Linked DNA regions of Homo sapiens. The protein of the gene in region 3 purifies or fractionates together with the protein of the main gene of each other region. This does not show direct contact. Each region holds a gene or a part of one and is shown on either strand. Other genes may lie near its edges. The genes, in order: BLTP3B, NOPCHAP1, CT55 and LRBA.

Region 1 (8,027 bases), on a different chromosome or scaffold from region 3:
CCAGCTACCTAGGAGGCTGAGGCAGAAGAATCGCTTGAACCCAGGAGGCAGAGGTTGCAGTAAGCTGAGATTGCGCCACTGCACTCCAGCCTGGCGACAGAGCAAGACTCCATCTCGAAAAAATGAAATACATTGGTTTGGTCCAGAAGGGCAAGACAAGTCAAAGGAGGGGAGCTTCCAGGCTATAGGTAAATTTAAACATTTTCTGGTTGACAATTGGTTGACTTTGTCTAAAGACCTGGATGATCTGGTTAAGATAAAAGATCGTGGAGACCAAAGTTCTTTTGAAGTCTTAATGTGGCTGCCCTTAGAGACAATAGATGACAAATGTTTCGTATTCAGACCTTTAAAAGGTGATAGACTCTTAGTTAATCTCTTCAGGATTGAGAGGGCCTGTAAGAAAAAAACCTAACTATGTTAATAGAGATTCTTTATAGATGCAAATTTTCCCCCACAAAGAATGGCTTTGCAGGACCATTTCAAAATATGGCAAAGAAACATGTTTTGGGGTAAAATATTTTGACTTTCTCCTTTGTCACTGATAAAACAGGATGAGGTAAAGAAGCTGGCCAAAACCCATCAAAACCAAGATGGTCATGAAAGCAACCTCTGGTCATCCTCACTGCTCATTAAACACTAATTATAATATATTTGCATACTAAAGGAAACTCCCATCAGGGCCATGACAGTTTACAAATGCCATGGTAACATGGAGAAATTACCCTATATGATCTGAAAGGGGGAGGAACTCTCAGTTCCAGGAACTCCCTGCACCCTTACTAGAAAACTCATGAATATGTACCCTTTGTTTAGCATATAATCAAGAAATAACCATAAGTATAGTTGGGCAGCCCATGCTGCTACTCTGCTTATGGCGTAGCTATCCTTTTATTTCTTTACTTTCTTAACAAACTTGGTTTCACTTTACTCTTGTCAGCTTGGTCTTGAATTCTTTCCTGCAGAAGGCAGGAACCCAAGTAGCCTCCCAGCCTGAACCCCAATTTGGGGGTCACCCTACCACAACCAGCATAGCTAAATATCTGCAGAGTTCAGTTTTGATATGGACAGGAGACAGGGAAATACTGGGTAGAACAGAGTGGTTCCCTGGCAAATGCCCTACTCTCAAGCCTGGAAACCCACCGTCCTAAATGGGAACAGGCATTTCTGTTTTTGTGCTCAAAAGTTGCCTTTTGGCCTGCCACAGCACCCTATCTTGTATCCATAGAAAGCCCAAACCCCAGGCTCCACAAGCAGATGAGCAGACAAGGAGATGAACAGATGAGCAGAAGAATGGCAGACCAGTGCAGCAGAGACAAGAGAAGTAGTGACTGAACGCTGAGAAGAGTTTGGCCACTGGATGGCCAAATTCCAGGGGAAGATCATCTTCCCACTCCATCCCCTTTCCAGCTTCCCATCCATCCTGTTGAGAGCCACCTCTACCACTCAATAAAACCCCACATTCACCGTCCTTCAAGTCCCTGTGTGACCTCTTTCTGGATGCCTGACAATGACCTGGATACTAAGAGGGCACTGAGCTAGTTAACACTTAAGCTATCTGTGGACAACAAAGCTAAAAGAGTGCAGTGTAACGCATGCCCACTTGGGCTTCAGGAGTTGCAGTTACCCACCCCTAGACGCTACCATGGGGCCAGAGTTCAAAAGTCCTTGCTCCGGCTTCTGCACTTGCCCATCTGTGTGCTCCCTGTCCTATTAGGGGTTTGCATGTGCTCGGTAGCCAAGCAGATGAGCCACCCCCCTGTGTACTTCGTGCATTAGTGTTAGTCCTGCGAGTGAAGTCAGGGAACCCTCCTGCTTCAGTTTTAAATCCAAGTCTTTGATTTCAGGGTCCATTTTTTTAAAAAAATTAAATGGATTTATTCATATCTTTGAAATAATACCTCTACTATAAGTCTGTCCCCAAATGAATTACTCCTTCCTCTGTGTTCTTATAGCACTTTGCTTGTTTTTGGTAAAGTAATTAATAATACCTAGCCTTTATTGAGTTTGCTATAAGGCAGGTTAACAGTAGCTACTAATAATAATATCTCTTAACACATGAGATCACTGAAGCTGAGAAAGATTAATTTGCTGAAGTTTACACAGTTATAAAGTGGCCAGCATTTGAACCAGAGTCTACTAACAGAGCTGAAGGTGTAAGTAACATGAGTCTGCCTTCCAAGCCAGGCCGTTAACTCTGATGGCAGGAACAGAGATTTTTGTTTTCATTTAGGCAACCCCAGGATACTTGAATAGTGCCTGGTTTATAATCTATGATAAATGTTGAGTGTAGTCAGCTGGGTGTGGTGGCTGATGCCTGTAATCCCAACACTTTGGAAGGCTGAGGCGGGCGGATCACGTGAGGTCAGGAGTTCGAGACCAGCCTGGCCAACATGGTGAAACTCCGTCTCTACTAAAAATACAAAAATTAGCCTGGTAATCCCAGCTACTTGGGAGGCTGAGGCAGGAGAACTGATTGAACCTGGGAGGCGGAGGTCGCAGCGAGCCAAGATCGTGCTGCTGCATTCCAGCCTGAGCGATGGAGTAAGACTGTCTCAAAAATAAAATAAAAATAAAATGAAATGTTGAGTGTAGTCAACTTACACGTCTATCCTTTCCATTCTTCAAAAAGGGCCAGCTTATTGGACTATGTGTAAACTACTTCCCACCCAACTCCCAAGATGTACAACCACACATCTTGCTAATACATCCCTCAGGGGTGGTACAATTTCTTTTCCTGTTTTAGATATCACTAGTGTTAAAAGAAAAACTTCAGCCAAATTAAATTTAAAGGAGTTTAACAATGAACGATTCCTGAGTCTGGCAGCCCCCATAATCACAGCAGATTCAGAGAGACTCCAGCACAGCCACATGCTGGGAGCAGATTTCTGGCCAGCAAAAGGAAAGTGAGGTCTAGAAAATGGAAGTGAGGTACAGAAACAACTGGATTGCTTACAGCTCAGTGTTTGCCTTATTTGAACACAGTCTGAACAGTTGGCTACATCTGGCCAAAACTCAGTGATTGGCACAGGTGTGGGCTATGGTCGGTTTATACCTCTGCTTATTTTCATAAGTTCATGATGTACAGAAAAACCTTTAGGCTGAACTCAATTACGTAAGGAGGCAGTGTTAGGCTAAACTTGACTTAACACTGAGTAATTTTTTTTTTTTTTGAGACAGTCTTGCTCTGTCGCCCAGGCTGGAGTGCAGTGGCTTGATCTCAGCTCACTGCAACATTTGCCTCCCGGGTTCAAGCAATTCTCCTGCCTCAGCCTCCTGAGTAGCTGGGATTACAGGCGCCCGCCACTATGCCCAGCTAATTTTTGTATTTTTTTTTTGTAGACACAGAGTTTCACCATGTTGGTCAGGCTGGTCTTGAACTCCTGACCTCAAGTGATCTGCCTGCCTCGGCCTCCCAAAGTGCTGGGATGACAGAAGTCGTCATTTTAATCTCTGAAAATGTTAGCTCTGTTTGGGATTGGGTGGGGTGGAGGTGTAGAATTGTAACAGTTTTCCCTAGTTCAACAATTTCCTTCCTTCCTTACAGAACTTTTCATATGATATTTACACCTTTAGGTTCAACCTAGTGAAGTGGGTAAGGCTGATGATTAATCTATTTCACAGATGATTAAAATGAAACTAATAGTAAAGAAATTATTTTCCCCAGGATAACACAGCTAGAAAATACCAGAGCCAGGACTTGAATTATACACCTTCTAATTCCTAGGTCCTAGACTACTAGGAACCATTGTCAACCTTTACTTCCCTTAGAATAGCAATAACCAAAGGAAACATTAAATTGCCACATTTAGGTAAGGGAAAGGCAGGACACCTTAACAAAAGAAAAAAAAAAAACACCAAAAACAAAAACCTAAGGAAGAATATGAAGAAAGGTGAGTAGGTCAAGAGAGCAAAGCAAGCACAGGAGTTAATGGCCGATTCTTAAAACATTCTAAGGAGGCCGGGTGCAGTGGCTCACGCCTGTAATGTCAGCACTTTGGGAGGCTAGGAGGGTGGATCACGAGGTGAGAAGTTCGAGACCTACTGGCCAATATGGTGAAACCTCGTCTCTAATAATACAAAAATTAGCCGGCCGTGGTGGTGCGCACCTGTAATCCCAGCTACTCAGGAGGCTGAAGCAGGAGAATCGCTTGAACCCTGGAGGTGGAGGTTGCAATGAGCCGAGATCGTACCACTGGACTCCAGCCTGTGTGACAGAGCAAGACTTGTCTCAAAAAAAAAAACAAACAAGCAAAAAAATAAAAAACATTCTGAGGAAATGAATAAGGGAAGTAGGACGTGGAAGTAAAAATCAGCGACGGGTCAGCGATGGAGGCGGGAACACCAGCAGAGGGAAGGAGGGAGGATTAAGGCCAAGAAGGATGGTGTATTGAGAGTCAAGGGCCCTGTGTCGCGAGGGCTAAGAACCCTGGCGCCAATGCCACAAACCTCCCGCCCCCGCCCAGAGCCCAGCCAGAGCCCAGCCAGAGCCCGCCCAGAGCCCGCCCAGAGCCGGCGTTGGCCCCGCCCCGCCTCGTGCCGGCCCCGCCTGGAGCCGCCCCGCCCCCGCCCTCCACCGAGTCTCTTAGGTGATGCTGCAGCCAAGATGGCGCCCGCGGCGGCCGTGGCGGCCTGAGCGTGATGCTCCGGGTTCTCGGCGGCGGCTGTGGCCTTGGCCGGGGCCTTGGGTCTCTCCCGGTCGTGAGCGATCAGCGCCTCTCCGCCGGCCGGGCTAGCCGGGACAGAGAGGAGACGGCCACGAAGAGAGGAGGCAGTGAGCAACAGGACGAGACCGCGGCGTCTCCAGCCTCGGTACCATGGCCGGGATCATCAAGAAACAAATCTTGAAGCACCTCTCCAGGTCAGTGAGCGCCTCGGTGTCGGCGCCAGTCGGCCTCCACCCCAGCCCGCACTGGAGTCAGCCTGCGGCTTCGGGGGCGGCGGCGCCTGGCGGCTGTGCGGGAGGCGACCTTCGGACTTCCCCGCTCTGGCCGGGGCAGAGGTCGCGGCCCCGGATCTCTTGTCGCCGGCGGCGCCGGGGGCTGGCCTCACGAATCGGCCCCTGACGCGTCTTCTCCCAGGGTGGGCGCGCGGAGGAGCCCGGAGTGCGGAGCGCGGCGGGCTGGGATCGCTCCCGGCGCGGCGTCTGGGGGCGTCCCGGCTCGGCTCTGTGCGGTACTGAGCGGAGGCTGGAGGTGGCCTGGCGTCACCCAAGTGCCTGGTTAATGTGCTGGGCTCTAACTCGAGTTCGGTGCTCCTTCCCCTTGGAGCAGAGCGGTTCCGTTAACCGAGGGCTTCTGGCGCAGTGTGGACGCTCAGTGGAGGCTGTGTTCTCAGTGGAACGTTAACCTTGTGATTGTTCTGAATTCCTCCCACCTTGGCGTTCCCGCTCTGTGGCATCAGAGGGTGTGCCTGTTTGCACAGTTAGGATTTGTTTTAGGTAAATAAGCAGAGTTCGCAGCTTTGGCAGGTTCTTTCTGGAGTCCTATGAGACCCACATCATTATTACTGAACATTTTTTTTTTTTGGTTTTTGCTCTTTTTCCTCTGCAACTCTAAAATTCAGGGAGTTAACATCTGTGGTGATTAAACCCAAGACATGTCATTCTCTCCATTTCATAACGCGGTTTTAGTCAGAAACATGACTCAGTAAGGCTGGCAGTTTGTTACTGCTCTTGGCTTCTCCGTGTTTGTCTCAAGACACAGGCTAAATGTAGGCTCTTGTTCCAAGTTGTTACCAGCGAACTCAAAGCCCTTGGTTAGGATCCCTTTCTGTTCGATTTGTAAGTTAATTTTAACTAATTTTGGGAAGACACGGGTATGATTATAGACTTGTATAGTAAACATAATTCTTGATTCCCCAGATTGTCTTATACCACAGGTTATATATTGGGAACAGAATTCTACTTCTGTGATTCAGCAAATATTTTCCTCACTTATAATACTGAATAAGATATAGCACTTTTCTTAAAAGTAGCAAAGTATAGCAGCGTGTGTGTGTGTGTGTACATATATATACATATGTACATATATACATATACATATATACACATATATACACATACATATATATGTGTACTACATATATATGTGTATACACTACACATATATATGTGTATATATGTAGTATTTTTTTAGTAGAGACTGGGTTTCACCAGGCCAGGCTGGTCTTGAACTCCCAACCTCAGGTGATCCGCGGTCCTCGGCCTCCCAGAGTGCTGGGATTACAGGTGTGAGCCCCCACGCCCTGCATGAATATGTATTTCTTAATGTTATCACTCATTGAAAAGTTTCTTTTAAAATTATATATATGGCCCAATCTTGAACTATCTTATTTTGGAAGGTTTTATCTATTTTTAATTTATGTCCTCCCGCCTTTCTCATACCCAGCTCCACAAGAAAATACAGATCTGCAGAAAATGATTTGAATGCCTACTTTCTCACTCGTCCAAGGATGATGCTGCATAGCTAGTACCACTCTAGATGCTTGGAAGAAAAGTTAATTCAATCAACAGATAGTGCATTAGAGTTTAATTCTTTTATAGAACTCCATTTGAGAGGGGCTCTTAAAAATTAAGAGCATGCATACCAAAGTATAATAAAAAAAATTAAGAACAAAGATGTAATGGCTTACTGCATGAGATAGAAAACACCCATATATTGAAAATTGAGTCTTTAGGGCTAGTTTTTATTTTATTTTATATATATATATATATATATATATTTTTTTTTTTTTTTTTTTTTTTTTTGAGACAGAGTCTCACTCTGTTTCCCAGACTGGAGTGCAATGGCATGATCTCGGCTCACGGCAGCCTCTGCCTCCTGGCTTCAATCAGTTCTCCTGCCTCAGCCTCCCGAGTAGCTGGGATTACAGGCATGCGCCACCACGCCTGGCTAATTTTGTATTTTTAGTAGAGACAGGGTTTTTCCATGGTGGTTAGGCTGGTCTCAAACTCCCAACCTCAGGTGATCCGCCTGCCTTGGCCTCCCAAAGTGCTGGGATTACAGGTGTGAGCCACCGTGCCTGGCCCTTAGGGTTAGTTTCTAAATCTGTATGATTTGTAATAGCTGTGTGATAAATAGTGTGATGAGGATTTTTTTTTTTTTCAGAGATGAGTTTTTGGGACACTTGAGTTTTCAGTTATTTCATATTTCAAAACATCCTTAACTCAGGTGACTAAAGAGTATCAAATTTTTATTTTTGGTTAATAAGTTAATCTTACTGCTAATTGCTGTCATCTCCTAAGAAAAATAGTTATTCAGAAATCTAAAGGCAGCTCGTAATTGACAAAAGAAGGCAGGTGTTGTGATAAATTATAGTTACTCAGGAAGGAATGAACTTTTGAAATTACCTGGTTCAAGTTTAATTTTATAGAATATCCAGTAATGAAGATGTCACTACATTGACCTAGTGGTCTGGGATACAGTAGAATATAGTTTACCAGGAAATAGTTGAACATACTAGTTTCTAATACTAGACATCATGTGAGGCCTGTGTATGCAACCCATTGCACCTTCTCAAAGGTGACCTTTCCTGACCACAGAGTTTAAAATTGTGAGCCCCCATATTGCCAGTCCTCTTGCTTGCATTATTTTTCTCCATAGCACTCATGCTTGTCTGTCGTACATATTTATTTCTTTATGTATTTTTGTCTTTCTCCACTTAAATGTAGACTCTATGAGAGCAGGGATTTTTGTCTTGAGGCTGGCATAAAGTAGGTACTCAACAACTATTTGTTGCATGAATGTGGATACATAACATGAATGAGCTTACTTTCTCTTACATTGCTTTTTTTTACTGAGGCAAGACTACTGCCAATATTCTTATAGATTTGGGAATGACCAGTTTCCCTGTGGCTTTAGGAGGCAGTGAGTAATTGAATCATTAAATAAATGTGGTGCCTTTGGATCCTGGAAAATAACTAGGAAAATGACCTAGTTCTTACAGGGGTTTATATGAGGGGTCTTCCGGTAAGGAAATAACCCAGTTATTGTATGGGGGGAGGAGTTCTGCCAGTAAGGAGGAAGACT
Region 2 (8,022 bases), on a different chromosome or scaffold from region 3:
TGTAAGAGGTGGGACCTTTAGGAGGTGATTAGGTCATGAAGGTAGAACCCTTATGAATGAGATGATGCCCTTATAAAGCTGCCTTGTCCCTTCTACCATGTGAGAATGCAGCAAGAAGGGGCCCTCTATGAATCAGAGTGTGAGCCCTCACCAGAAACCAAATCTCCTAGTACTTTGGTCTTGCACTTTCCAGCCTCTAGAACTGTGAGAAATACATTTCTTTTATTTATAAGCTACCCAGTTTATGGCATTTTGTTATAGCAGCCCAAATGGAGGAAGACACCAATTTACATCTAATGTCATTACTGAAATGAGTATCGCTTACCTGTACTATGACATTGTTTTCTATTTGTCCCAAATGTTCTTTGTTCCTCTTTATTTTTTATGTTGCTTTCTTTTGGATTAATTGAATGTATTTTATGGCACCATTTTTTTTTTGGAAACGGAGTCTCACTCTGCTGCCCAGGCTGGAGTACAGTGGCATGATCTCGGCTCACTGCAACCTCCACCTCCCAGGTTCAAGCAATTCTCCTGCCTCAGCCTCCCAAGTAGCTGGGACTACAGGTGCATGCCACCAGGCCCAGCTAATTTTTTATGTTTTTAGTAGAAACAGGGTTTCACCATGTTGCCCAGGCTGGTCTCGAATTCCTGAGCTCAGATAATCCGCCCACCTCGGCCTCCCAAAGTGCTAGTATACAGGCGTGAGCCACTGCGCCCGGCCTATGGCTCCATTTTATCTTCACTATTGGCTGATTAGATATCGGTCTTTTTAATTTTTTTTGTAGTTGCTCTAGTATTTACAATATAAAATTTTAACTTATCACCATCTATTTTCAAACCCTACTAAAAACACTTCACATAAAATATAAGATCCTTACAACATTTATTTCCATTTACCACCTCCATTTTCTGTGCTATTCTTGCCATACTTTTTGCTTCTATATTTGTTATAAACCCCACGATACATATTTTTTTGCTTTAAACACTCAATTATCTTTTAAAGAGATTAGAAGTAGAGAAACTATGTTTTATATTTACCTTCATATTTTACAAAACTGCTCTTTTGGTTAACAACATAATTTTCTGGAAGGGAGACTAAATTCTGCCAGTGCATTTTCTACACTATCTTGGAAAGATCTGAATGTCTTCATTTCTAAGCTATTCTTACAAACTAGCAGTGTTGACATAGTTTGGATGTGTGTCCCTGCCCAAATCTTATGTTGAAATGTAATCCCCAGTATTAGAGGTGGGGCCTGGTAAGAGGTGATTGGGTTATGGGGGTGGATTTCTCATGAATGGTTTCGTACCGTCCTCACGATACTGAGTGTGGCAACTTGCTCACTCTCTCTCTCTCTTTTTTTTTTTTTTTTTTAAGATGAAGTCTCACTGTGTTGCCCAGCCTGGAGTGCAGTGGCATGATCTCGGCTCACTGCAACCTCTTCATCCCTGACTCAAGTGATCCTCCTGCTTCAGCCTCCCAAGTAGCTGGGATTACAGGCACCTGCCACCATGCCTGGCTAATTTTTGTGTTTTTCATAGAGACGGGGTTTCACCATGTTGGCCAGGCTGGTCTCGAACTCCTGAACTCAGGTGATCCACCCACCTTGGCCTCCCAAAGTGCTGGGATTACAGGTGTGAGCCACCACGCCTGGCCACCTTGCTCAGTCTTCCTTGCTCCTGCTCTGGCCATGTGATGTGCCTGCTCCCCCTTTGCCTTCTACCATGACTGTTGGTTTCCTGAAGCCCCCACCAAGAAGCTTAGCAGATGCTAGCATCATGTTTCCTGTACAATCTGCAGAATGGTGAGCCAATTAAACCACTTTTATTTATACATTTCCCAGTCTTGGCTATTTCCTTATAGCAATGCAAGAACAGGCTAATACAAATGCCCCACTCATTTTGTATGGCGCTGCACCTGTGGGGTACTTCAGATCTCAACCAACCATTCACAAAAGTGATTTGAGGAAATTTCCAGTGTCTAGAATCCAGGTTTGTTGAGGTGGTCAATCAATCAAACAGTTAATTAACAATTATACATTTGTTCATCTTCTTTTTGTTCTTTCATTCATCAAACACAGATTAATCATTAACTGTGTACCTATTACAAGCTCAGTGCTGGGAATGCAAAGGATCTCTAGATTTAATAGGTTTTAACTGGAAGTAGGAAGATAGTGAAATAACTTTTAAAATGCATTAATCAGTTTTTTTTTTTTTTTTTTTTTTTCTGAGATGGAGTCTCGCTCTGTTGCCCAGGCTGGACTGCAGTGGCGTGATCTCGGCTCACTGCAAGCTCCACCTCCTGGGTTCATGCCATTCTCCTACCTCAGCCTCCCGAGTAGCTGGGACTACAGACGCCCACCACCGCGCCCGGCTAATTTTTTGTATTTTTAGTAGAGACGGGGTTTCACCCTGTTAGCCAGTATGGTCTTGATCTCCTGACCTCGTGATCCGCCCGCCTCAGCCTCCCAAAGTGCTGGGATTCCAGGAATGAGCCACCGCACCAGGCCCATTAATCAGTGTTTTCTTCCTCAGTGCCTACTGTTATTTCTGTCATAATTCTTTGTGGCCTAGCTTTTGTAACTTCGTATAATATAGTGTTAATTTATTATGATGAACATAATAATGCTGCTACCAGTGAGATGGTATTATACCTCGACCTTGACCCCCTTCATGGGCAGGAACTGGAATGGCTCATTTCACTTAGCCTGCTGCTTGTCACTCCTCACAAGAGGGAGCGTGCAAGTGAGTGCAGGACCCAGAGCGAAAATACGAATGCTGGAACTCACCGGTCACTCCTCTCTGGTGAGAGCAGGCTGTGTGTGGGCTCTGGAGCAATGTCCCAGCCCCTGCCCTCATGGGTTCTTGTCTGCTGTCCAGAAAGAATCAGGTCACATGAACGGACTGAAGGGTAGTATATGTGGAGGATTTTATTGGGCAATGGATGTGGCTCTCAGTGGAATGGGGAATAGGAAAGGGGATGGTGGGGGAAGAAGGTGATCTTTCCCTGAAGTCGCACCATCTGAAGTTGGCCGCAGCTATCTGTAGTCTCTTCTTGTATCCCCAACACTTAGCCATTCATATTGCTCTGTCAGCTGGTCCTTTTATGGGCGCAGGATATGGGAATGGCAGGCTAAAAAGGCAACATTTGGGCGAAAAATGGGGTCAGCTATTGTCACTTAGGGCCACAGTTCCATGCTTTAGAGTGGGGTTTAGCTGGGAGCCCAATAATTCTGTATCACCAGTGCCATTACATACATTTTACTCCTTTTCCTCTTTTATTCCTTATAACATCCCCATGAAGTATTATTATCCTGATTCTGCAGAGAAGGACAGACGCTCAGGGAGTGATCTGCCCAAAGTCACAGCTACTAAATGAATAATATGACACTGGATTTAATCCACTCCAGGCTGATTCTGGAGCCTCTGCACTGTCAGAAATAAGCAGAAAAGATTGGTCCAAGGTTTCTGCTGCTTCTGCTTTGAATCCTATATAAGAGGGGTCTGGGCATACTGCAGGTGGTCAATAAAGACTGTTAAAAGAACAAACAGGAAAGGAAGCAATAGAGTGAAAAGGCAACCTACAGAATGGGAGAAAATATTTGTAAATCATATATCCGATAAAGGGTTAATATCCAGAATATATAAATAACTCCTACAACTCAACAACAAAAACACAAATAACCAGATTAAAAAATGGGTAAAGGAGTTGAATAGTCATTTCTCCAAAGAAGATATATAAATGGCCAACAAGCCCATGAAAAGGTGTTCAGCATCACTAAATCATTAGAGAAATGCAAACCAAAACTTCAAGATATCACTTCACACTCACTGGGATGCTCACTGTCAAAAAGAAAGAAGCAACCAAACAGAAAAAGGAAATATTGACAAGGATGTGGAGAAATTGGAACTCTTGTGCACTGTGGGAATGTAAAATGGTGCAGCCACTATGAAAAACTATACGGAGGCTTCACAAAAACCTAAAAAGTAGAATTACCCTATTATCCAGTAATCCCATGTCTGGGTATGTATCCCAAAGCATTGAAAAGCAGGGTCTCTAAGAGATATTTGTACCACCATGTTCATTGCAGCAGCGTTCACAATGACCACGAGGTGGAAGCAACCAGCACGCCTGTTGAGAGATCAATGGTAAGAAAATGTGGTATATACATACAATGGCATATTATTCAGGCTTAAAAAAGAAGAGAATCCTGTTATGTGCTACAACATGTCTAAACCTTGAGGGTATTATTTTAAGTGAAATTAGTAACAAAAAGGCAAGTACTGTATGATTCCACCTACATAATGTATCTGAAGTAGTCAAGCTCATAGTAACAGAAAGTAGAACGATGGTAGCTGGGCATGATGGCTCACGCCTGTAATCCCAGCACTTTGGGAGGCCAAGGTGGGTGGATCTCCCGAGGTCAGGAAATCAAGATCAGCCCGGCCAACATGGTGAAAACCCGTCTCTATACAAAAATACAAAAATTAGCCGGGCGTGGTAGTGTGCACCTGTAATCTTAGCTACTTGGGAGGCTGAGGCACCAGCCTGGGCGACAGAGCAAGGCTGTTTCAAAAAGAAAGAAACAAAGAAGAAAGTAGAATGGTGGTTACCAAGGGACTGGAGTAGGGGTAAATGGGTATAAGGTTTCAGTTTTGCAAGATGAAAATGATCTAGAGGTCTGCCACCACTGAATTGTACAACTAAAAATGGTTAAGATGGTAGATTTTGTTACGTGTTTTTTCACCAATTAAAAAAAAATTTAATAAAAAAGGATAAAGAGGAGGGAAGCCTAATGTTATGCTCTTTATGCCCGAATTTGGCGAAATCGAGCCTTGCCCGCTGTTTTTTCCTATGACAGTGTCTGAACCTTTCTTTTTCCCAGGAGTAGGAATGGCCCCTGCTCCCGCGCAGCCTCCAGGCTGCACCACGCTCGCCCCGCCTCTCTCTCCGCTCCTTACTCCGCCCACCGCAGTTTCCTCCAATCGCGGCCCTCTCCCCGCCCCCTTACCCGAGCCTTTTTCCTGCATCCGGGCCTGAGAGTGCAGGCTTGAGGGAAGCATGGAGGTCCATGGCAAGCCCAAGGCTAGCCCGAGTTGTTCGTCGCCCACCCGGGATTCCTCAGGAGTCCCAGTGTCCAAGGAGCTGCTGACGGCGGGAAGCGACGGCCGCGGAGGTGACGGACGGGTGACGGCGGCATGGGCCGCACACGTGCGGCAGAGGAGGCGCGGCCGGTGCAGTTTGGGAGCCGGCCGGTGGCTCCCTGCCCGGGCTCCGTACCCTCGAGGGGAGCCCCGGGGACTGCTGCGGGGCTCCGGCGTGCCCTGCCCGCGGCAGGGGTGGGGGCTTTGGGGCGGGCACCCGGCTGCGGGCCCGGAATGGTTTCCCCAGCTAGTGGTTCTTATATTCTGCAAGGTAGTGAGCGCCCACCCTGCCAGGCGCCGCTGCCAGGCATCTGCCCTGCCCTGGAAGCTGGGAAGCTCTCGAGTTCTTTTGGGGAAGGGAGGGCTTTTGGTTTGGCTGCCTGGGTCGGAGCAGTTGGCTGATAGGGGGAAGCGGAGTAATATTATGCTAACAGTCCCTACCTCTTTCACACCCACACAGACCACCCCTTAGTGCTGCTGTCTTGTAGAGGGAGACATGCATCCAGGAAATCCACACAGCATTTCAGACACTATAGGTAGAATTTAAAAGCACGAGTTCGAATCCCAGCTCCACTAGTAATTAACTGGTGGGACTTAGAGTTATTTTCATTCCCTAAGCCTCAGTTTTTGCATTTGGAAAATGGTGATAGTAGTAATGCCTGTAGAATTTTTGTGAGGAGGAGAATGCCTAAAAAGGCTTGGGCATGTTGTCAGTAAATACTAGCTTGAAGAAAAGGTTTTGTGAGAACCCAGAGATTCCGAAGGAAGTATAATAATGATAACCAAAGCTTATGTAGTCCTTACTATGTATGCCCCAGAAACTAACTCATCTAATCCTCACAACAACCCTTTGCAGAAAATCTGTTATCTCTGTTTTATAGTTGAGGAACCTGAGACATGATTTATCATACAGGTAATTTACCTTCTGGAGATCATGTGGCTAGAAAGTAGCAAAACTGGGACTTGAATTCAAGTAGTCTGGCTCCAGACTCTGTGCTCTGATCACGAATCCAGTAGGCCTTAAGTAGTAGGCATTCAATGGATGTTTGTTGCGGCTCTGCTTTGCAGGTGAACAGGATTTGTTTTTTAACCAGAGAGTTAAGGGATTTTCCGGGTATTAGAAATAGGGTGTGCAAAGCCTTGAGTTTTGTACGTTCCCCTCTTGGAACTCTGATGGGATAGAGAGTTGGGATGATTTGAGTAGTGAGAAATGAGGCTGGAAAGGTAGAGTGGGTGACAAAATCCCCAAAAGGCTGCTTTCCTTGGGTTGAACGTCTTCAGGGAAGGGGAAATACCAGGCAAGCATGTTTTACTAATGAAGAAACAAATGCTTGAAGATCAGGTAAGTTGCCCAGTGTTACACAACTAGTAACCATTTCTGGCTTCACTTAACCATTGTTATGCTCTGTACTGTTTCCTCCGTTCTGTCATTGCAGACCCACGTTTGTCTGCTAATGAATTTCTGATCCAGAAAAGTGCAGATTGGTGTGCATTTATTACCTGCCATTGGTGATAGAGGTGAATGAGACAGATGTAAGAAAGGAGAGGTGGCTGGCTGTACATAAAGAATTAAAATGTTGTAATGGAGCTTGGAGTTCTCCTTTAAAAAAAAAATTTTGGGGGAGTGTGGACAGTCAAGTCTTAAGACTGGTCATGTGAGAGGCTTACTGATGGGCCTTTGTTTTTTTATGCTGTAGTAAATTAAGGGTGTTTGTGTGTCTGTATTTTCAGGTATATGGGACAGGTTGCTCATCAACTCCCAACCTAAGTCCAGAAAGACCTCCACTCTTCAAACAGTTCGGATAGAGAGGAGTCCCTGTAAGTACCTCTTCCCCTCTCTCACCCTCTCTAATGCTGAGTTTTGTCTGATTAAGCTGTGGGACGGTCTCTGCCTTCATTGTCAGGTATCAAACCACAGATAGTCCAGTGGAACAAGTCCTACTTGGGATTTACATGATAAAGTCAGTACACAGAATGGAACTTCTTACATTATTTCTCTACTTTAAGAGGGTAACTTTTTCGTGAAAAATTGCTTGTGGGTTGAATTTTGGGAAGTCAAAAACAATTGTTAATCTCCATGGCAAATTTATTTAGAGGTTACTGAGCCTCAAACTTAATATATATGGATGGAAAACCACAACCACATCCCATTGAATTGGACACAATTATTTAAATGATAAATATTACTTAGAATACAGCATAATGGCCAGTTCTCTTTATTATTCTGTAGTATTGCTGTACTGCACATTCATAAGTATGTCCCACACTCAGACTTTATTACACGAATGCCCTCTATGTAATTCACTCTTAATATTAAAAAAAGGCAAAAATTCAATAAAAACAATGTAAATAAGCATGAAGGTAATGAAGGTATCACATCAATAAACTAAGAAATCATGAGTACTCTGAAAGGAGAATTTAACTGTAGCATCATTACTGTAGCACTAAATCTACAATAGCTGAAATGACCATATGGTGGCTGCCCATCCAAAAACCAGTTTTTGTGGATATAGGTTTTTGTTTTGAGGGATTACATACCTAGGAGTGGAATTGCGGGTATATAGAAGGTGTAATTTTTTTTTTTTTTTTACGAAGAAGAAATTGCTATTTTGCATTTCCACCAGCAAGGTATGAGAGTTTAGTTGCTGCACATCCTAACCAAAATGTGGTATGGCCTTTTTAATTTTAGCTGTTCTAGTGTGGATATAGTGGTATCGCGTTGTGATCTTAATTTGTTTCTAATGGCTAATAATGTTGAGCATCTTTTCATGTGTCACTATTTGTATGTCTTTGGTGAAGTGCCTATTCAAATCTTAAACACATTTAAAAAATCAGGTTTCTTATTGTAAACATCATTCTTGATAGTGCAGCTCTGCTGGA
Region 3 (6,142 bases):
ATGTCTAATTATGTGAAATTGGGTTAGTAAATTACGGCACATCCATTAATTGGGATTCCCTATGACTCTTTCCGTCCTCTCTTGTTATTTAAAAACTTTTGTGTTCATTTAATGTGATACTTTAACACTGAATACCATGCTAATTTGCTTTTAAAACAGGCATTTACACATGTATATATATTTGTGCACAGACAAAAACATCAGGATGAGTGTTACTGCCAAAAATGTAGTCCCTGGTGATCTCTTGGTAATGAATTATGGATTGTGGGGTAACTGCTTTTTGCTGTCTGCTTATCTGTTTTCTTTCCTACTTTTAGTATAACAAGCTTACACTATTTTTGTAAGTTTTAAGGATTATAAAATAAGGACTATTACACTTCCAACAAGGGAAAAGGTTTGTATGCCTCTCTATTGTAGATAAAGTAAAGCCCTAATTTGACTTGGTTTTTCGAACCTCCCCCAGTTGAGGTTATTGCTCCAACTTTATCTCATGCTTCTGTCTCCTAGGCCTGGATCTCGGATGTTAGGGTTTTGCTCCCTAGGCTCCTAACTTCTGTTGTTTTTTCTCTCTGCCTCCCTGCTCCTTTACCCCGTCTTCTTTCCCAACCCAGCACAAATCTGACTTCCCCTAAACAATGCTTCTATTTTCTCCCTGTCTGAAATGTTCTCCCTCTAGATAATTCACAGAAACCATCTTTGAACTAGTTTTATATCCTTCATCGCAACCTGCTTATGACTATATACCTTTCCACTTTACCGTCATTTCACTGTGAATTTCTGCAGGCGAAGGACGGTATTATTTTAATCTTGGAATCTAATGGTACAAGGACATTAAACTTGGGTATGCAATTAATGTTTTGGGATACATTTCACAATTCTTGAAGCACGCACATGACTTTTACTGTCATCTCAAGTCAATGGTCCACTTACCAAGTGAACTATATTCTCCAGTGTTTAGGATGGCTGTTGAAAATATTTTTGAATACAAGTCTTTTAATCATGTAAGTTCCATGTTTAAATTTGTATTGTTTTTGAAGTAAACTCTTTCCTAAATCTTACAGGTGGATGTTGTGCCTCGCCATCTTTATGGTGCTGGACCCTCAGACTCAGGAACCAGAGTTTTAATTGGATGTGTTACTTCTATAAATGAAGATAATATTTATATTAGTAACAGCATTTATTTTTCCATAGCCATTGTTTCTGAAGGTATGATTTATATTTTGAAATATATGATGTAATTCTTAATTTTTTGAGAGGATTTTAGTCCTGGAACAACTTTTACAGTGTACTTGGCTTCAGTCAATGGCTCTTCAGTGTTAGAGGTAGACTGTTCCAATCGAAATTAAGTACAGTATAGGGGCAAATAGACAGTATTATAAATTGTGTGCTGTTGGTTATTGTGTGTTCATTTGTTCAATGCCCTCAGTAATGCCTGGATATACTATTCATTCATATGAGAATTTAATTTCTAATCAAGAAAACAATCCTACAAGTGCATAGAGACACTATTTTTAATACCCTTCAAAGACTATACTTGCAGGCATCATTTCTGTAGTTGGTTACTAGAGAAGTTTCTGTGACAAGGTAGACTACCAAATTTTAAAAGAATACACTTCAAATGCTTCAAACTTAGGATTGGAGATAGCGCCTTGTGGTTGTCTGTTTGTGTGTGTGTGTGTGTGTGTGTGTGTTGTTGTTGAATTCTCTTTGTAATCGGCAGATATATTCTAATATTTAGCTTCTACCCAACGATATTTTTTTGTCTGTTTTGTCTACTGCAGCTGTCGTATAGCTTGGGTATAAATGGAGAGATTAGCTCCGCTTCCCCAGGCAGCTTGCTAGTTTGTTTTCTTGGGTGCAAAAGCAGGATTCTGACCTGCATTTTGTTTGACGATGCTGACTCTGTCTGCTTTGTTGAGAAGAGACTATGAGGGGAAGGGTGGAGTCAGGAAATCAGTCAGGAAAACGTTGTAATATTCCTGGTGAGAGATGATGGAGATGTGAATGAAAATGGAGAAGTGGAAAACCTGAGGATTGAGTTGACTCTGGATATATTTTGAAGTGAGAGAAGAACCCAGGAGGTAATGGATTAGATCTTTGTTGTGGAGGGAAAATGAGTCTAAGGTACCTCCAAAGTTTTTGATTTGAGCAGTTGTGAGAGTGGAGTTGCCAGTTTGTGATGTAGACGACTGAGGCAAACAAAAGTTGGTGAATATGGAGAATACCAACAACTCAGCTTTACACACGTTAGATTGGTGTAAGCATATGGATAATTGACCCTGAGGTTGGTTAGAACTGGAGGCATATACATTTTGGAGTTATAAGCATATAGATATATGTCAAATCCACACAAAAGAAATGTATGTAAATTATCAGAGAGAGAGAGAGAGAGAGAGAGAGAGAGAGAGAACAGGTCTAACACAGTGTCTTATGTCATTCTACAGTGTTGGGTCCTAAGGTGAAGAAATGTTTAACTTTGTTGATATCACTAGTTTTCATTGTGGCAATTTACTGTCTCAGTTGCAGTTGGGATTTCCACTTGCTCCAGATTCTTTCACGTAACTTTGTTATCCTGTGACTCACTTTTAACTTATTGCAAACTTCTGTTTGAAACTTGATGGTCTTAACTGTAACCTGTAAGGCACATACTTAAGAGTTCATTAGTTGAACACAACACCAGGGGAAATTGATTCATTCTGAAAGTAACAACATTTCCTAGCGGTACTGCTACCACTACTACCAATCAACAGTTATTTGGTGGTTGCTATGCGCCAGCGATGATTCTGTGCGTATCACACATATCAACTAATTCTCAAGGCAGCTGTGTACCATGAAGGCTACTTACTGTGCTTCTCATTTTATAGATGAAGAAATCGAGGCACAGACAGATTAACCACCTTGGCTAAGGTTGCCAACTGAGTGAGTGGCAGTGTCAAGATTCGAAGCCACATAGCCAGGTTCAAACTTGTGCTCTTACCTATATGTTTGACTGCCTCTCACTAAGCAATTGTGAACACTAACAGTTGTTTAGTAAATCCTGTGCTGCTCCCTCATATTGGCTGTGATGCATGCTTCACACTTTCCTCCATTTAAATTTGTTAAATCAGTAGAGGAGAATCAATGCCTAAGGATTATAAACTTCTTTTTGGACTTAGAGATTTGTAGTGTCTGTTTAAATATGCACAAAATGGACTTTAGATTTAGCAGAACTGACTTTAAAGTAGTACACTATCAAATAACATGTGAAATTAAAAGTGACCTAGTTAAGAGATCATGACACTCACATTTCTCCATGGCTGTTTTAGATTTTGTGCCTTATAAGGGTGACTTGTTAGAAGTTGAATATTCCACTGAGCCAGGCATCTCAAACATCAAGGCAACTTCTGTGAAGCCCATCCGTTGTATTCATACGGAAGAGGTAATTTCTTTCCTGTTGCTCCCGTCAGCAGTTTCTGCTAACTCTTCCTTTGGTGATAATTTACGTGACCAGGATTCTGTTGGGTATAATGGGAATTCCAGAAAATATGAAGAAATACATTCTTTGCCAACAAAGGAGCCACTTTTCTTATTGAAAAGGCAGAATTTTCCAAAGGAAATAATTAGAAAATTATATAGAACAAGCACATGATTAAGTTCTAAATTGTGCATTTTACTCGATACCCAAATGTTATTAGAATCTTCCAAGGACAGGAGGAAGAAAAACAATCTTTGTGCCAGAAAACTATAGGGAAAGAATGAACGGAGTGTGTTGTGGGACTTGAGCTGACCAGTAGATGCTAAGAATGATTTGGTTATTAAAGCCTGAATATGCACAGGCAATTCAAGGCAACAGAGGGTAATGGACATATTTTGGTAATATTTAGAGCAGGATTTCTCATCAGAGACCCAGGCCTCATTCCCAGAGAGTCTGATTTAATTGGTCTGAGGTGGAGCGTGGACATGGGTATCCTTACAAAGCACCCCTGGTGTTAGCAATGGGCCAACCAGGTTGGAAATCAATGATTTGCATCGAAGTGACCTGCACTCATGCAGGACCCAGGGTGAGGAGGTGCAAAGCTGGTTACAGTGCTTATTGGGCTTTTCCATAATCATTTCCATTATTTATACTCACAGGTCTGCATTACTAGCGTACATGGAAGAAATGGGGTGATAGATTATACTATTTTTTTCACCTTGGATTCTGTGAAACTTCCTGATGGATACGTACCTCAAGTAGATGATATCGTCAATGTGGTCATGGTGGAGAGCATTCAGTTCTGCTTTATTTGGAGAGCGATTTCTATCACCCCAGTGCATAAATCGTAATGACAAAGCATTTTTATTCTGTTTATCTTTCCTTTTATGAGCAGTAAAGGGGCTGGTTTAACTTAAAAGGTTAGCTTAGTAAGCCTAAATAGTATTTTATATATGACTTTTCTGGCAAATCTAATTGAGACACTGGCCAGTCCAACTGGACCAGGAACCCAGCTTAGGGAAATAACTTATTAATTAAAAAGCATGCTAAATTAGCTTGCTAGTCACTGGAGGAAAGGAGTTCTTAATTAAAATGAACACGGCCATTAAATTTGAATTCCATATTTCCCATTAGCAGCAGCGGATTCCAGGATGACGGAGGCCTGGGACGGCCCAAAAGGGAACGTCGGAGCCAAAGCATTTAACTGAAAAGGCATCAGGGACAGCATGTTAAAGGCATGATTTAAAGTTACAATTTGACTTCAGTTTTGAGCCCCGTTATGCTGCCTGTACAACCTGTATTGTTCCATAGCCTCTTTCATCTTCTGTCACCCACATAACTTGCGGTGTTTGTTGTTTTACTTGTTCCTTCTTCCCCATGCTAGAATGTAAACTCCACAATGGCAGGATGTCTTTTAATCTGGTTTTTTTTTTTCTTTTTTCTTTCTTTTTTTTTTTCTGTTGTCATTAAAGCATCACCAAGCACTTAGAAGAGTGCCTGGCAGACTCAATGAGCAGATAAAATGTTATTAAGTTCAATGACTGAATGACTGGGCCAGCAATGATACTTACCTGTGGTTCATTCATCACTGGTTCCTTAGGAATAAAATTGTTGAGCAATGCACTAAGACCTCTCTGTTGATTTTTAAACAACACCAACAACCATAGAAAGTCGACTCTGCTGTACATGAGCCTCTGTGAGCCACTTTGTTGCAGGGGTGCAGCTCATGTGAAGTCACGAAGAAACGTACAAACACAGAGCCCCTTGAGGGAAGGACAAGCTGCTTACCCACTGGGAAAGGTTATACTAAAATCCCACAAGTAAACTCCAGGAAACTTCATGCTTTCTTCTAATAGAATATTTAACCAGGTAGCTGTGACCTAGGGGAAGGGATATATTCAGACCTTTGGGCATAGCTTGAGTGTCGTTGTAAACTTACCCTGAGTCCTGTGATTCATAATTCCACCATTACCACCGGTCCTTGAATAAACAGAGTTGTGTTTTGACTTTCCACTACAGATCCAGTGAGACCTCTCAGTTATCCAGGGATTTGTTTCCCGCTTGATAGAAACAGTGAAGGTCTTGTAAAGTTCCCATTTTCACTCACTGGTTCACTCCACAAAATCCTACTGATTCTCTTTGATGTGCCAGGCACTGTTGAGGCTCTAGAGTTATATCCTTAACCAAAAGGACAAAATTCCAGGCCCTAATGGAATTGTGTTCTTTCAATGCCCCAACCCCACCCCCCCGGCACCCCCACCGTCCTCGGCTTCCTGACCCATGCAGCAGTAGCTCCTATGATTGAAAGGGGTAAGTGGGAGCTGTGGCAACACCAGGTCCCTGTGAATGTCGTCATTCAAAAGCAACCCCACACCCTGTGGAATTACAGAGCAGTCCACGTTGGACTTGAGAGATGCAAGGGTCATGACTTTCACTACCTCCCCATTTAATTCTGCAGTTTGTTTGATGTGGAAGAATGTTCTTTGGGAGTTACAATGTATTATGATAAGCCCAATCAGCTGATGATTCAGTCACAGCCACTGTTTCACAAACTTCCTCACAGGACTGAAGATCACCTGGGAGGCAGCAGTTCAGCTGGGCAGTGGGGCAGGGATTGGATACATTTCCTCTATCTTCTTTCAAATAGCAAAGCCCAGAACTGCTTTGCTTTCATAAGGCAGACCAAGC
Region 4 (7,133 bases), on a different chromosome or scaffold from region 3:
AAACAGAAGCTCTGCATGTTAATGACTCTCTCTCCCACCAGCTCATGTGCATGCTACTTTCTGTCTCTATGAATTTGCCTCTTCTAAGCACCTTCTGTTAAGTGGAATCATACAATATTTGTTGTGTTGTGCCTGGCTTATTTCACTTGGCATAACACTTTCAAGGTTCTTGCATGTCGTAGCACGTATCAGAATATTATATGAATATTCTGTGTTCTGTTTATCGTTCACCTGTTGATGATGGACACTTGGGTTGTTTCTACCTTTTGGCTATGGTGAGTAATGCTGCTATGAACATTATCATACAAATATCTATTCAAGTCCCTTTTTACAGTCCTTTTGGGTGTATGCCCAGGAGTGGAATTGCTGGGTTATATGGCAATTCCGTTTGACTTTTTGAGGAAACCCTAAAGTGTTTTCCACAGTGGCTGTACCATTTTACATGGGTTCCAATTTCTCCACATCCTTATCAACACCTTGCTCTATTTTTTAACAGTTGTCCTAACAGGCGTGGTCTCTCATTGTGGTTTTGATTTCCCTAATGATCAGTGATGTTGTCTTTTCACTCTCTTCCTAATATCCTTAGATGCTCAAAAGATTTTACTTTTTGTTTGTTTTTTGAGACAGGGTCTCACTCTTTTGCCCAGACTGGAGTGCAGTGGCACAATCACAGCTCACTGAAGCCTCAACCTCCTGGGCTCAAATGATTCTCCCGCCTCAGCTACATGGTAGCTGGTACTCCAGGCATGTGCCACCATGCCCAGCTTTTTTATTTTCTGTAGAGACAGGGTCTCACTATGTTGCCCAGGCTGGTCTTAAACTCCTGGGCTCAAACAAACAATCCTGCTGACTCAGCCACCCAAAGGGATGGGATTATAGCCATAAGCCACTATACCTAGCCCTGATTTTACATTTTATGAAGTCCTATTTTTTGTTATGAGTTTGTTTTGTTATCTTGTCTCTTTTGTTTTGATATCATATCCAAGAAGCCACTGCAAAATCCAAGGTCATGAAGGTTTTCCCATATGTTTTCATCTAAAAGTTTTATAGTTTTAATTTGTATTTAGGTTTTTGATCTGTTTTTAGTTTTTTAATATAATGGTAGGTAAGAGTCCACCTTCATTGTTTTGCATGTGGACATCCTATTTTCCCAGCATAATTTGTTGAAAAGAAGGTGCTTTCTCCGTTGAAAGGTCTTGGCACCCTATTTGAGCACATATGTGAGGGATTATTTCTCAACTTTCTCTTCTGTTGGTCTGCCTATATCAGTGTGACAATGTTTTGATTACTGTCGCATTGTAACAACAGTAAGTAAGTTTTCAAATCAGAAAATGTGCAACTGCTAACATATTTCTTCTTTTTCAAGATTGTTTTGGCTGTTAGGGGTTTCTGTTTCGCTCTGTCACCCAGGCTGGAGTGCAATGGCATGATCTCGGCTCACTGCAATTCTTAATTTTCCTTTTGGACTGCTCATTGTTTGTTAGTGTATAAAAATGCAACTGATTTTCGTGTTGTATATCCTGCAAATTTGCTGAATTCATTTATTAGCTCTTTTGTTTTGTTTTGGTGTGGAATTTTTAGGATTTCCTACATACAAGATCATGTCATCTGTAAACAGAGACAGTTTCACTCCTCCTTTCCAATTTGGATACTTTTTTCTTGTGTAATTGCTCTGTCTAGGACTTTCAGTACTGTTGGATAAGAGTGATTAAAGTGGGCATCCTTGCCTTGTTCCCAATCATAGGGGAAAAACTTTTTTTCATCGAGTGTGGTGTTAGCTGTGAGTTATTCATACATGCTGTTTATCATTTGAGGTAGTTTCCTTCTACTCCTATTGTTTTCATAATAAAAGGATGATGAATTTTGTCACATGTCAAATTTTCCAGCATCAGTTGAGATGATCATGTGGGCTTGTTTTGTTGTTTGTTCTGTTAATGTAGTATGTTATATGTTGGTTGACTTTTGCATGGTGAGTCATCCTTGCATTCCCAGAATGAATCCCACTGGGTCATGGTGTACATTCCCACTACCATGCTAGTGAATTCAGTTTGCTAGTATTTTGTATCCTGGTCTGTGTGTTCTTTTGTTGTAATGTCTTCAACTGGCTTTGGTGTCATGGTAATACTGGCCTTATTGAATCACTTAGGAAGTGTTCTGGATTCTTTAATTTTTTGGAAGAAGAAATTGAGAAGGATTGGTGTTAATACTTCTTTAAATGTTTGGTAGAATTCATCAGTGAAGCCATCTTGTCTAGGACTTTTCTTATTGGGAGGTTTTTGATTACTGATTCAATCTCTTCACTTGTCATAAGTCTAATCATTTCTATTTCTTCATTCAGTTTTGGTATACTGTTTTCAGGAATTTGTCTATTTCATCTAGGTTGCCCTATTTGTTGGTATACAGTTGTTTCTAATAGTCTCTCTGAACTCAGTTTCTGCCAAATCAGTAATGTCCCAACTTTTATTTCTGATTTTAGTAATTTGAGTCATTTTTTTTTTTTTTTTGAGATGGAGTCTCACTCTATCACCCAGGCTGGAGTGCAATGGTGCAATCTCAGCTCACTGCAACCTCTGCTTCCCAGGTTCAAGTGATTCTCCTGCCTCAGCCTTCCAAGTAGCTGGGATTACAGGTGCCCACTACCACGCCCAGTTAATTTTTGTATTTTTAGTAGAGACGAGGTTTCCCCGGGTTGGCCAGGCTGGTCTCGAACTCCTGACCCCAGGTGATCCACCCACCTTGGCCTCCCAAAGTGCTGGGATTACAGGCATGATCCACCATGCCCAGCCAAGTCATCTTAGTCTAGCTAGAGGTTTGTCAATTTTGTTATTTTTTCAAAGAACCAATTTTTGGGTTTTTTCCTATCAATCATTTTACTATTTTCTGCTTTATTTCTCTCTACTCTGTTCTTTATTATTTTCTTCCTTCTGCCTAGCCTGGGGTTTTGTCTGTTTTCTAGTTCCTTAAGAGGTAAAGTTAGGTTATTGATTTGAGATATTTTTAAATCTATGTGTTTACAGCTAAAAATTTCCATTTTAGCATTGCTTTTGCTGCATTTCATAAGTTTTGGCTTGTTGTATTTCCTTTTCATTTGTCTCAGTATTTTCTGATGTCTCTTATGTTGTTGTTTGTTTTTTTTGACTCATCATTTATTTACTTTCCACATATTTGTGAATTTTCTAGTTTACCTTCAGTTATTGGTACCTAGTTTCATTCTATTATGATCAGAAAAGCTACTTTGTGATTTTAATCTTTACTAAGTCATTAACACTTGTGGCCTAACATATGGTTTATCTTGGAGACTATTCCATGCGCACTGCAAAAAAATGTATATTCTATTGTTGTTGGGAAGGTGTTCTATATACGTGTGTCAGGTCCAGTTGGCTTATCGTATTGTTCAAGTGTCCTGTTTCCTTATCTTCCACCTGGTTGTTCCACCCATTATTGAAAGTGGGGTATTGACGTCTAAAACTATTACTGTAGAACCATTTCTCCCTTCAATTCTGTTAATATTTGCTCTTTGTATCTTGGGGGTCTGATGATAAATGCATATATAATTGTTATATTTCTGTGAATTTACCCTTTTCTCAGTGTAGTGTCCTTTGTCTCTTGTAACAGTTTTTGACTGAAAGACTATTTTGTCTGATATTAGTGTAAGCCACCTCAGCTCTCTTTGCTAGTACTTACACGGAATATCTTTTCCATCCTTTCACTTTCAAGATGTTTGTCTTTAGATCTCAAGTGGGTCTCCTGTAGACAGCATATAGTTGGATCATGTTTTTTATCCATTCTGCCAATCTCTTCCTTTTGGCTGGAGAATTTAATCTCTTTAATGACTGATAAGGAAAGACTGACTTTTGCCACTTTTCTATTTAATTTTCTCTCTGCCTTAGAGTTTTGTCTCTCATTTCCTCCTTACTGTCTTCCTTTGTTTTTAGTTGATTTTTTTTGTAGTGACACATTTTAGTTCCTAATTAATTTTGATACGAGGTACTAGGAAGGATACTGAATATGGCTTCTAAGGGCTGGTCCTAACCAAACTACACAGAGAAAAATCTGGCTATGCTCAGTTTAGGTTCACCTATGTTCTCCATCTCTTTCCCTGCACCACCTCTTTGGGGACAGGAGACCAAGAAGCTTGCAGAAGTTCTTATCTTCAGTGATTTCGGTGAGTTACTGTGTTACGAGGACTAGGTCCTCACCCAGAGCATGATGGACATAGACTACTTCTCCACAGAGGGGAGACCAGCTTAAATTATGGTCAACAACACTCTTCTTTTTCACTCTTCATTGATTCTGTACCTGTCAGAGGTGGTGTCTCTTGTCACTTGAGTGTGTGCTGCTTCTTTCCACCAGCAGTTACTTTGAGATTGTGGTTCCTTCTTTTGAGTCTGTTGCTTATATAATGGATGGGTCTTGCCAGCCCAGTCCCCCTTTAGAAATTACCAAATCTGTTCAGATTTTAGTTACAAATCTGTTCAGATTTTAGTTACTCATCCTGCACATACCAGCTGTCCGTACCCTTTCAATGAAAAAGCAAGCTGTGGCTTGGATCCTTGTGGAGTGTCAGAGGCAGTACTCTGAGCTTACTCAGGGATACATTTTAGTCATGAAATACATACCTTAGTTCCCACAAATTGGAGCCTTCACTGCCAGCTTCTATATTTACCTTGTGGATTTGGGGAGAGCAGTTTTTAGTAACATCTCTAGGACACACAGGTTTGTAAAAGTCCTTCTCTCTGTGCTTCTCCTAGGTGCATCATTTCTGGCATGGCTTCAGGAAGCATTGTGCTATTTTACAACGACTTTAACCGGTGGCATCATGAATACCAAACCCGCTACTGATGGTGACAGCTGTACATCAACTCTGCCCCTAGGATGAGCAGAAGTACCTGGAGCATCATTCTCTTCTACCACATCTGAATGTAACTTAAATTTGCTCAAAGAAGCAAAATATTTTTTAAAGTTATTAATAATTGCTATTTTTGTAGTCTTTGCTTGACTTTTTTGGGGGGGATTAGCAAAGCAGAAAACTGGCTGCTGGGTTCTGTAGTTTTAAAAAATCTATATTTTTAGTCATAATGAGAAGTCTATTTTCACCAATTATGGAAACATACAGTGGAGCAAGTAAACCACTTATTCCAGCTATAATATTATGAAGAACATTTCCCATGCATCTACAAGCTTGAGAAATAGGATTTTCACAGTGGGGAAGTGGGTTACAATATTGGAATAGGAAAATTTGATGCTGTAATTTGGGTCCTGTATTTTTCCAAACAACTGTGCTTCTTCAGCACTAATATTTCTGGGATTTAAATAGTAATGTTTAAATTATGGTAAATGTAATTTAAAACATCTCAATTAAGTCTGTCTATCAATATTGTTCTTCAAGCATGTTTTAGACCTAGAAAAGTATGGTTTGGGGGAGGCTATTTTATTGTGTGGTTAGCACAAGGAATCTAATTTATAGCAAGTGTGAAATAGTTACCATTTTTTCCTGATCTGTCATCTTCATAGCACAACAAAACGAAATGATGGAAATGCTCTTGAGCTCACAACATTTGTTTTTCTTTTAAAGTAAATGCAAGTACCAAAGCTCACTACTGCGGTTTGCCTGTGCCTGGACAATGAGGCGGAGCCACTGTTGTTTTGTTGGGGCACCCCCTTCCCTCCCCGGGTTTGCAAATAGAGGCTACCGGGTGCTGTATTCAGCAACACCTGTTTTACTATTTGTTATTAAACTATCATCTCCACCTTCCTTTTGATTAGCAATTTGTACTAAGAAACGAAACAATGTTATTTGGTGGTGTATAATTCTACTTTTCTAGTAGATTACTGTGTGGAATTCTGTGAAAAATATTTGAGAAAAGGCCTGTATTGCATAAATAAATTCTTTGTATGTTGTGAACTTTGATCTCTATTTCTCTTGCAACAGACTTCAAGTGGTCCCTCTTTTTTTCCTACACACTCAGCTCTTCTCTAAAAGCAAGGATTTGGAATGAACAATTCAGTTTGACAGAAAAAGCTGAATAAAATGGCATCTGTAATTGAATTGTTGGAAATGCCTTTTTTGCTCCTAAATTTTAAACATCATTAATAAAATAATGATTCACAAAGAAAGAAAATGTCAAACTCTGATTCAGTCCTAGTTTTTGATCAATAACCAATGTGAGAGATCCTCCTGACTGAAAACAGGAAAATGAGCTTTCTTTGGCCAGATCTCTCCTCTTTCTTACTGAGACTCACACAAATGACCTAGACCTGAATCTTACAAATGCCTAGCAAGGAACTTTATGTACCACTTCATCTGAGATCCATCATTAAGAAAATAAATAGACGACGGTGAAATGTGGGGGAGGGAAAGTACATTTTAGAATCAAAGAAATACCCAAGTTGCTGATAAATTAATTAACTGATGAACATCTTCACTGTTTGTTTGTTAATGTCCTCATTAACTTGTGAATATTACTCTTTGAAAACTTCTTAAGTGAACAATGGTAAAAGAAAATACCAATACCTAAGTCGTGCCACACAAATGATACTTCAACCACCCTATGCTTAACAAGCCTAAAGCAAAGCTCCTCTTGAAACCTAAAAGGAAAAAAAAATCAGTATCTCCACTACCTTTATTGTTTTAAAAACTTACGACTAACGAAAATTAATTGAAACATAAGTTGGCCGGGTGCATTGGCTCACGCCTGTAATCCCAGCACTTTAGGAGGCCGAGGCAGGCGGATCACTTGAGGTCAGGAGTTCGAGACAAGCCTGGCTAACATGGGGAAACCCTGTCCCTACTAAAAATACAAAAAGTAGCCAGGCTTGGTGGTAGGCGCCTGTTAATCCCAGCTACTCAGGAGGCAGAGGCAGGAGAATTGCTTGAGCCTGGGAGGCGGAGGTTGCAGTGAACTCAGATTGTGCCACTGCACTCCAGCCTAGGCGACAGAGTGAGACTGCATCTCAAAAAATAATAATAATAATAATTAAAATTTAAAAAATAAATATTAAAAGAAACAATACTTCATGAAACAAATAAGGCTGGCATCAACACATGGGCTTCTTAATGACAGAATCTGTTCAGTAATAACATTTACAGTTTATTCAATATTTACTTATTCAATTTTAACTAACTCCTTAAA

What was found.
Region 1: the proteins of CT55 (region 3) and BLTP3B purify together in Homo sapiens (affinity purification with mass spectrometry; 3 studies listed by BioGRID and IntAct, with this or other methods). This does not show direct contact.
Region 2: the proteins of CT55 (region 3) and NOPCHAP1 purify together in Homo sapiens (affinity purification with mass spectrometry; 3 studies listed by BioGRID and IntAct, with this or other methods). This does not show direct contact.
Region 4: the proteins of CT55 (region 3) and LRBA purify together in Homo sapiens (affinity purification with mass spectrometry; 3 studies listed by BioGRID and IntAct, with this or other methods). This does not show direct contact.

What each region holds. Positions count from the first base shown.
Region 1 is NC_000012.12:100,139,423-100,147,449, reverse strand, and holds the start of BLTP3B (bridge-like lipid transfer protein family member 3B), read left to right. Parts: upstream 1-4,575; 5' UTR 4,576-4,814; coding exon 4,815-4,858; intron 4,859-5,684; exon of another isoform or gene 5,685-5,779; intron 5,780-8,027. UniProt on the Homo sapiens protein: Tube-forming lipid transport protein which mediates the transfer of lipids between membranes at organelle contact sites. Required for retrograde traffic of vesicle clusters in the early endocytic pathway to the Golgi complex.
Region 2 is NC_000012.12:104,981,294-104,989,315, forward strand, and holds the start of NOPCHAP1 (NOP protein chaperone 1), read left to right. Parts: upstream 1-5,022; 5' UTR 5,023-5,059; coding exon 5,060-5,174; intron 5,175-6,873; coding exon 6,874-6,960; intron 6,961-8,022. UniProt on the Homo sapiens protein: Client-loading PAQosome/R2TP complex cofactor that selects NOP58 to promote box C/D small nucleolar ribonucleoprotein (snoRNP) assembly. Acts as a bridge between NOP58 and the R2TP complex via RUVBL1:RUVBL2.
Region 3 is NC_000023.11:135,155,475-135,161,616, reverse strand, and holds the end of CT55 (cancer/testis antigen 55), read left to right. Parts: intron 1-1,061; coding exon 1,062-1,206; intron 1,207-3,305; coding exon 3,306-3,418; intron 3,419-4,113; coding exon 4,114-4,301; coding exon of another isoform or gene 4,302-4,305; exon of another isoform or gene 4,306-4,588; coding exon 4,589-4,658; 3' UTR 4,659-5,077; downstream 5,078-6,142. UniProt on the Homo sapiens protein: Plays a role in spermatogenesis, possibly acting in the regulation of the autophagy pathway.
Region 4 is NC_000004.12:150,263,431-150,270,563, reverse strand, and holds the end of LRBA (lipopolysaccharide-responsive and beige-like anchor protein), read left to right. Parts: intron 1-4,751; coding exon 4,752-4,842; 3' UTR 4,843-6,129; downstream 6,130-7,133. UniProt on the Homo sapiens protein: Involved in coupling signal transduction and vesicle trafficking to enable polarized secretion and/or membrane deposition of immune effector molecules. Involved in phagophore growth during mitophagy by regulating ATG9A trafficking to mitochondria.